2 linked regions of the Homo sapiens genome follow. The protein of the gene in region 1 purifies or fractionates together with the protein of each later gene. This does not show direct contact. Each region holds a gene or a part of one and is shown in the gene's direction. Other genes may lie near its edges. The genes, in order: MAT1A and NDUFS4.

Region 1 (4,590 bases):
ACATCATCTTGTTCTTAAATCAAATTTGGACCATAATTGTTATCATACAATTTTAACTGCTAAGGTCACCTAGTTCTACAGTTCAAATTAAACATTAGCTCATATTGCCTCTAGGTTTAAAACTAATGTACCCAGAAGAAATTTACTAAGGGCCAGCAATGTTGAAATAGCTTAAGTGCAAACAGAGGAGTCCTGTGTGCTGGCAATGACAAGGCGATGTTGTCTAAAGTCCCTATTTGATTCCTCGTTTGTCCATCCCTTCCCAGTGGCCTTTTCCTCTCTGAACTTTCAACAGTCTTGTGCCTAAGCACTTCAGTTCACTCCTTGTTAAATGCCGTTGATTGGCTATGCATATGTAACATCCCTTACTTTATTCCAGAAGAGGTCACCTTAATACTGCTTTAATTCCCTGAAGGGATGATGTTTGGTCATCAGTTAGCAAAACTCAAGCTTTGGAGCACCAGAATGTGTGCCAGAAAAAATTTTTCCAAATGCTTGATAATAAACTCAGAGGGGGGTTTGGTCACCAGAATTGTTAGGTGAGGCTATTGCTTCCTAACTTTTGCTTCCCACAGTCCAAGCTTTGATGCACAAGGTTATGGTTGATTACTTTTTATTGCATTCTAGTGGGAACTGGTTTCTCCACCCATCCTCATTTTCTGTGGTCTCAATTCCCCATTGTTCCTTGGGTCTGAGGATGCAGCTGGATCTGAGAGTGTGAGACGCTGTCATTTAGTACATGAACTAAAGATATAATCCTGTTTACTACTTTTTTTGGTCAAAGCAAAAAATAATGCAAGAGTTATGTGAACACGATGTTTATTACATGTATAGAACTGAATATGTAGATGTTTATAATCCGGAAGCTTTGGGAAACTGGACTTTGATAATTTCCCTGTAATGAATCCATTTCTCAAAAGCATTTTTTTCTAAAAAAAACACACACACACACACACACACACACACATTGTTCTCTGTAACCTCCCCAGATAGATACTTTTTAAAGATCTTGCTTGTTAAAATGCCTGCCAGCCTTTTAGAGAAGTTGACAGGTTAGGTGGTTTCTGTTAGCAGAAACACGTGGACTCAAAGCTTTTCCTCTAAAATGAATCTGTTGTGTAACATCACAGCTGGCTCAGAATACAGGTGCGTGCTCCTGCTCTCCCTGAGAAGATAGAATGGGAAGAGACCAATCCAGATGAGACGCAGGGGAGGAGGGGACACCCAACAGCAAAGGCACTGTTGCAATCTTAGCCTAAACCATATCTCTGAGAAAGAGTTTCTTGTTGCCTGCTTGTATCTCTGGGTGATCACAGACCCCTGCTCTCCAAGGTGGGTTGTGAACTCTGGAGCACTACCAAGATTGGCTAAGAGCTGAAGGAGAGTCCCAAAGGAGCTTCAATTCTGCAGAACTATACAGCCTTCTTTACCTTACCTTGACCAGGTGCTTAGAGTTTGGAAAGTCAGGGATAAGAATTGAAATTCCTCCAGGTAAGAAGACCCCCCTCTTAGGAAATGGACTCCTCCAATTTTCTCACATGATTTTTCAGGCACTTTCGCTTTTCCATATATAGGAGTCGCTCAGGAGCAAGCTGTGGCAAGCTGGAGGGAGGGACACATCCCGTGTTCCATCCACTCCCTCCCTTCTCAGCAGTCCTCGCCTGTTCTCACGTGCTCACAGGCAGTTAGGCAGAAGTGATCCCCGTGGCTCTGCCAAAGACAAGCCTGTTGGGTTGAAAGAAGAAGAAGAAGAAGAAAAAAAAACTCAGGCAAAGTCACAGCCTCAAAATTGTTCACTGAAAGAAGCGTGAGTGGAGAAGTGTGAGAAGATGAATGGACCGGTGGATGGCTTGTGTGACCACTCTCTAAGTGAAGGAGTCTTCATGTTCACATCGGAGTCTGTGGGAGAGGGACACCCGGGTAAGTAGGCTGTCTTGGACTGACTGGAAAACGATCATTCCAAGCCTATACTGAGGGAGTCACTTACAAATGGTTTTAATTTGACACATAATAATTGTGCATATTTATGGGGTACCGTGTGTTGTTTTGATCCATGAGTATAACATTTAATGATCAAATTAGGATAATGGGCATACCCATTGCCACAGACATTGACTACTTCTTTGTGGTGAAAACATTCAAAATTCCCTCTTCTAGCCCTTCAGTCACCCTACTGCGCAATGGAATGCCAGAGCTCATTCCTCCTATCTGACTGTAACTTCGTACCTGTAGGAGTCACTTTTACCAGAGCTCTTCAGAGCAATGTGTGTGAGTTACCAGAAGGGATCTCTAGAGAAACAGCATGGAGTAGTTTCATAAAACAGTCCCTCCTGATGAAGCCGTGCTGTGGCCCACCACCAGCACGCCAGCACAGTGGGTCCAAGACAGGGAGTAGCAGCTGGCTGGCTAAGAGTATGACACATGCAAAATATATGATCAGGTCTTAACTTTTTATATGTATTTTTTTTTTAGGAAAGCTTTAATCTATTATCCATGGCCAATTTAAGTCAACAGGGAATGTTCCTGAAACAAGACCATGGGTGACTAAATTTTGCATGTGAAGCATGTGCAACTTAGGCATGAAAGCCTGCACCCTGGTCACTGCTGGGGTAGACCTCTAGGTGCTGGGGACTCAGTAACGTTCTCTAAGAGCAGAATAGAAGACCTTCTAAACAGGAAGAAAATTTAGGCATTGATTTTGGTCCCTGAAAAGTAGGTAGACTGTGATGTGCGGAAGTGAGAGAAGCTTCCTTGATGACGGTGAGAACTAGGACCAGGACATTCAGAGCCTCAAGTGTAGGACAGTGGTTCTCAAACTTCAGGGAGCTTCAGAATCCCCCAGAGGGCTTGTCAAGACAACAGAGGGCTGGGCCCCACCCTCCAGAGTTTCTGATTCAGTAGGTCTTGGGAGAGGCTCGAGAATTTGCATTTTTGACAAGTTCCCAGGAGATGCTGATGCTCTGGGGTGAGAACCACTGCTCTTGGAGACCCCTGGGGGATAGATGTACAGACTTCTATAGTTAAGTCCCTCTTCAAAATTCATTCGAGTGTTTGCTAACTTATTGCCAAGTCTGCCTTTTTCCATCTTCCTTGCTCTTGTTCTTCCTCAAAGATATTTATCTTTCCTACCTTGTAACTTGGCTTTGGACACCTCAGTGCACTACTCCTTCCATATACTTTAGCCAGTGGTTTTTGACTGGTGGCAGTTTTGCCCCACAACCCCCAAGAGCATTTTGTACTGTCTGGAGACATTTGCAGTTATCACAACTATAGGAGGTGGGGGTAAGGTGCTACTGCCATGTATTGAGTAGAGGTCAGGCACACTGCTAAGCATCCTACAGTGCACAGGACAGCCTCTCAAGAATTATCTGGCCCAAAATGTTAATAGTGCAGCTGTTGAAAAACCTTGAATTGAATTGAGTTTTTTATGTGACTTAGCTCAGTTCAATGTAAATAGCCTCTTTCATTGTGCATAACTGTATAAAGTATCTAGGTTTACTGTATTTTCAATCTCAGATACATTGCTGATTTCTGACACATTCTGATCAGCTCCATGGCTATGAGCCTCATGTATAGGTTAGGAGAAAGATTCACTCCACCCGGAGGAAGTGGGTTTTTTGGCATGCAGCGGCTAGTGGTCCCAAGAATGGTCCATTGTGCGCAGCAGCAATGTGCTCAGAGGACTGAGAATGAACGTGCCAGCCAATCAATTGATTGTTTTGTATACTTAATGACAGCCAATCAATTTGTCTAATCGTCCCTTGTACTTGCCATTGTAATTGTCCAGGTAAGTCAGTTTCCATGGAGGCTAGGTGACTTTCTGCTTGTCATTCCATTGCTGAATTCCTCTCTGCTAGAAAGATAAAGGTTTTCTTCTCTGGTTTTCCAAAAAAACAACTATTGGCTATCTTAAGCCTACTAAGTGATATTGATAAAAATTTTGAAAGCCAAAACAAAAACAAAAACAATTCAGAAACAACCTCCTTGGGCATTGTCTTGTGTGTGGTGCTATCTGGAAGCCCCTGCTGGACTCCAGCTTTGTTCCTTCTCCTGTTGGATTTCCCTAGGCAGAGTGGGAGCCTGTGAGCTGTGTCTGCACAGGCAGAGACATTCACAATCAATGATCAGTCAGCAAGCTTCTAGGAACTCTGATGGGTAAGCCTAAGGTGGCCAGCATGTATTTATTTTAGGATATTTTATCAGCGAGAGGCCTTCAGTGGTAGAAGTGTGTAGAGGCTAAGGGCTCAGACAAACCTAAAGGTACTACCAGGGTCTGCCACTGGCAGGAGGCTAGATTAAACAAACAAACAAACAAACAAAACACAACCTCAAACATATGTTTAGCAGTAGTTTCTAAAGGAAAGATTAAGGAATTAATGAATATCTTTAATTACAGAATTTAACATCTGCTTTTGAGAGCCAAACTGCTTGATTCTGGATCTGGATTCTTAACAAAAACATATTACTCTATTAAGAGCAGACTGTGGGTATTTTTAACACTGAATGAGCTATAATATATGTAGATAGAGATCACTTTTATTTCTTAATTTGTAGATATTGACAGTTTGCATAACCCCAAAGCAAGAGTAG
Region 2 (3,817 bases), on another chromosome or scaffold:
TAGCTGGGATTACAGGCGCGCACCACCACGCCTGGATAATTTCTTTGTATTTTAATTAGAGACGGGGTTTCACCATGTTGGTCAGGCTGGTCTCAAACTCCTGACCTCGTGATCCACCTGCCTCGACCTCCCAAAGTGCTGGAATTACAGGCGTGAGCCACTGAGCCCAGCACCCCTTAATATTTTAAATCTGAGGTTGGTTGAATTATGATGTGGAACCCACAGATGCAGAGGGTTGACTGTAGTCTGATATAGCAGTCTAAATGAATATGTTCACTTTTGCAGTGAGGAATATTATGTCTGGTAATAATCAGTTCAAACCCTAATGTCCTCTCTGTTTTTTCTGCCTTTTAGCCAAGTGTCTTCTTTATTTGAGAGACCATGGAATGCTCTTATCTTTACTGTTGCTGCATGGTTCCATTTGTACAGTGAGAGTTACCAAATGCACAATTAGTTGTTTACTTTTTTAAGCTAATGATTTTTTCCCCTAAATTTTGTAATTATTTTTGGTAAGGGACTTTTCATAGGTGACTTATTATACTTTTTTACGCTCTTAAAAAATATATATAACAAGATATACTGGACATTTTTTTTTTCTGTTTTCTTACTGATTCCAGTGATTAGGAAAAACGGTTGTATTGTGTTGTCTTTAAAAACGATTCAGTGTCTGCTATGCTTTCTGAGTTCTCGTGTCTGCTTTTTAATAGTGTTATATTCTTCCTTGACTGGTCTGCTTCCCTTTAGCAGTTTTAGCACCCCTTTTTCATTTATTATGGATTTGAATGTCAAGCAACTAAACCTATTAGAATTTTGTATAAAACAAAGTATGCTAAATGAAATTCTGATGATGGCAGAAGTTTACTTTTTATGATTAAAGACTTGAGCTCTTTTAAGGTTAACGAATAATTATATTTAATATATGAGCTCTTGTGACTTTTCTTTTCTAGCTTGTAGAAGTCCATAGATCCTGATGGAACCTTTTTGAACCTGAATTATGCAGTGACCACATTCTTCATAACAACTTTCATCTAAACATATGAATAATTTAATAAACTATTATAAATTTTTTCTTTTAATAACAGAGCAATTCAGAATTCTTGTTTCAAGTTCTATTTTGTTGTCTGTTACTAAGTATTTTGGTAGGTAAATATGACTTTAGGTTCTTTAGAACTAGTTAGTTGCTCAAAGGTAACCTTTTCTTCTTGTCTGTACTCACTAGACTTAATTTTTCTTTTATGGGCTCATTCTCCAGTTCACTGGTTTTTAAACCCTTGTGCATCAAAATTATCTGTTGGGTGCCTAAAAAATTCAGATGCCTTGCCCCCCAGTCTATATTGGTTCAGTAAGTTTAGGTTGAGGCTTAGCTCTATGGTGATTCTAATGGGAAGCTAGGGCTGAAAACGGATTAAAAAAAAAGTTTCCATATTATATCTTGTAAGACTTAGGAAATATATTTTTCCTTGGGAGAGAGTTCAGGGAGATTTCCAGAAACAAAAATTCTTCCATTTTTGCATATTTTTCTATTCTAAATTAAGTTTTATGCTTTTCACCCATGCACATAAGAGGTATTTTCTTGGGGAAAGTTTCCTTAGAGGGAAAAAAGGCATTTTGATAATTTTGGAGAAAGCAGGCCATATTACTCTCTCTCTAGAGACTCTTATTCTTCCTTTTGGAAGGGCTCAGGTTTAATATAGCACAGCTGTTGAACTCTGCCCTTCAAAATTTTAAGAAAGTGTTTTATCCTTTAAAATGGAAAAGGCTTTTTTAGGAAGGTGGTCTTTCACTGGATGTAGTTCTCTAAGAAAGTTTCATGCTTCTCTACTCTTTTGTGTTTGAATCGTTTCAAATGTTGAGAGAACTGTCTCTGGGAGTAAAATCTGGCTGCTTTTGCAATATATTTTCTGTATTCTTAAACAAAGCTATATGAAGAGTTTATTTCTTTGTGTTTTCTAGGACTCAAAAATATGTTTTTTCCTTTATTCAGCCACTTCACACATAAGTAAATGGTCCTTGAATAGGGCTTACTGGACAAAAGATTCTGTTCTAGATGACTGTTCAGCAAGCCATATGCTTCTCCTAAAAATGTCAGTCTGTCTTGATGAGCTTTAAAGTGAATACAGATGTTTTGGCTCTTTTGAGGACTACCACTCTTTGTATGGAAAGAGTACTTCTTTTTCAAGTGATCTCTTCAATATACTTACAGGAATTTGCATGAAATTTATGACTTTTGCCTTTTAAGTCTAATAAGATTAGACTTAGACATGTGTAATTTGAATTTAATTTTAATATTCGTAGTACAAATGAGATTTGGGGAATAAAATACATTTCATAATATGGCTTTTTGTTCAGATTTTGTATTCAACCTTTTAAAAAATGTGAAAGTGCTTTGTAATATTTACTTTTGTGCAATAAAAAGTGATATTTTGGCAGGCAAGGTTACCTTTTTAGATGTTCAGTGTCTTCTATCTTTGTAGGTTAACTCTGGAGTTATAGTTCATAGATTTATGTAATATTTAAGTTGGAAGAAAACTCTAGAATCATTAAGTCCAACCCTTTATTTAATGCAAGAATCCCTAGAACTTCCTGCTTCTTGATTATCTAGTTGTTGAGGAAGTTTGGTGACTTTCTGATAACCCCAGAAAACACACTATACGTTTAGACTTACTGGTAAGTGATGTTTTTCTTTGAAACTGTATAGAACAAGTTTAACCCCGTATACACTTGTCAGCCCTTCAGATAATTGAAGACATTTGTCATCACTCATTCTTCCTTCAAGTCTGTGCTCCAGGCTTAGCACGTCCAGTTTGTTTACTCTTTATTAATGATCAAATTTCCTGACGCTTTACTACCTCTTGGTACCCCTTAGGATGTTTTCCATTTTGTCAGTGTTGATCTTTGAACTATGTACTGTACTTTTATTTAAATGAGATTATCAGAGATGATAGTTTCATGAGCTGAGATTGAATTAAGGAAAAAAGTTGACTCTAGGTTGGATTTATTTTATATTATTTTTAAAATTATAAAGAAAAATTAACTGTTTTCCTTTTGGTGTATACTTCTTAGAGTTTTAACACATGTATGGGTTATGTGTAACCACCACCATAATCCTAGTACAGAATACAGTGTAATATGCAGATAACTGTTTTACTGTATTGTTTCAGGGTGCAGAATACCAAAAGACTTCATTACCCCAAGACTCCCTCATGTTATCCTTCCCTGACCGCTGTAATCCCTGTCCACAGTTATCTTTTTTCATCTTTATAGTTTTACAGTTTTGAGACTGTAATATAAATGTAGTCATATATAACCTTTTGAGATTGTCTTTTTTTATTCAGCCTGGTGCCTTTGAACTTCATATAAGTTTCATGTATCGACAGTTTGTTCCTTTTTACTGCTAAGTAGTATTCCGTTATGTGGAGGTACCACAGTTTATCCATTTACCTATTGAAGGACATATGAATTATTTCAGGTTTTTGGCAGTGTAAATAGAGCTTCTGTACAGGATTTTATGTGAATTATGATTTTGTTTCTCTAGAGTAAATACCTGGGTAGAAGATTCCTGGGTCATAGCTAAGTGTATGTTTAATTTTATAAGAAACTCTCAGACCGTTTTCCAGAGTGGTTGTACCATTTTGCTTTTCACCAGCACCATATGAAAGTTTTAGTTGTTTTGCATCCTTGTTAACATTTGTATTGTATTTTTTTTTCTTTTTTTTTTTTTTTTTGAGACAGAGTCTTGCTCTGTCACCCAGGCTGGAGTGCAGTGGCACGATCTTGGCTCACTGCAAGCTCCGCCTCCCAGGTTCAAGTGATTGTC

What was found.
Region 2: the proteins of MAT1A (region 1) and NDUFS4 fractionate together in Homo sapiens (co-fractionation; one large-scale study listed by BioGRID). This does not show direct contact.

What each region holds. Positions count from the first base shown.
Region 1 is NC_000010.11:80,286,663-80,291,252, reverse strand, and holds the start of MAT1A (S-adenosylmethionine synthase), read left to right. Parts: upstream 1-1,594; 5' UTR 1,595-1,829; coding exon 1,830-1,920; intron 1,921-4,590. UniProt on the Homo sapiens protein: Catalyzes the formation of S-adenosylmethionine from methionine and ATP. The reaction comprises two steps that are both catalyzed by the same enzyme: formation of S-adenosylmethionine (AdoMet) and triphosphate, and subsequent hydrolysis of the triphosphate.
Region 2 is NC_000005.10:53,566,977-53,570,793, forward strand, and holds part of NDUFS4 (NADH dehydrogenase [ubiquinone] iron-sulfur protein 4, mitochondrial isoform 1 precursor), read left to right. Parts: intron 1-3,817. UniProt on the Homo sapiens protein: Accessory subunit of the mitochondrial membrane respiratory chain NADH dehydrogenase (Complex I), that is believed not to be involved in catalysis. Complex I functions in the transfer of electrons from NADH to the respiratory chain.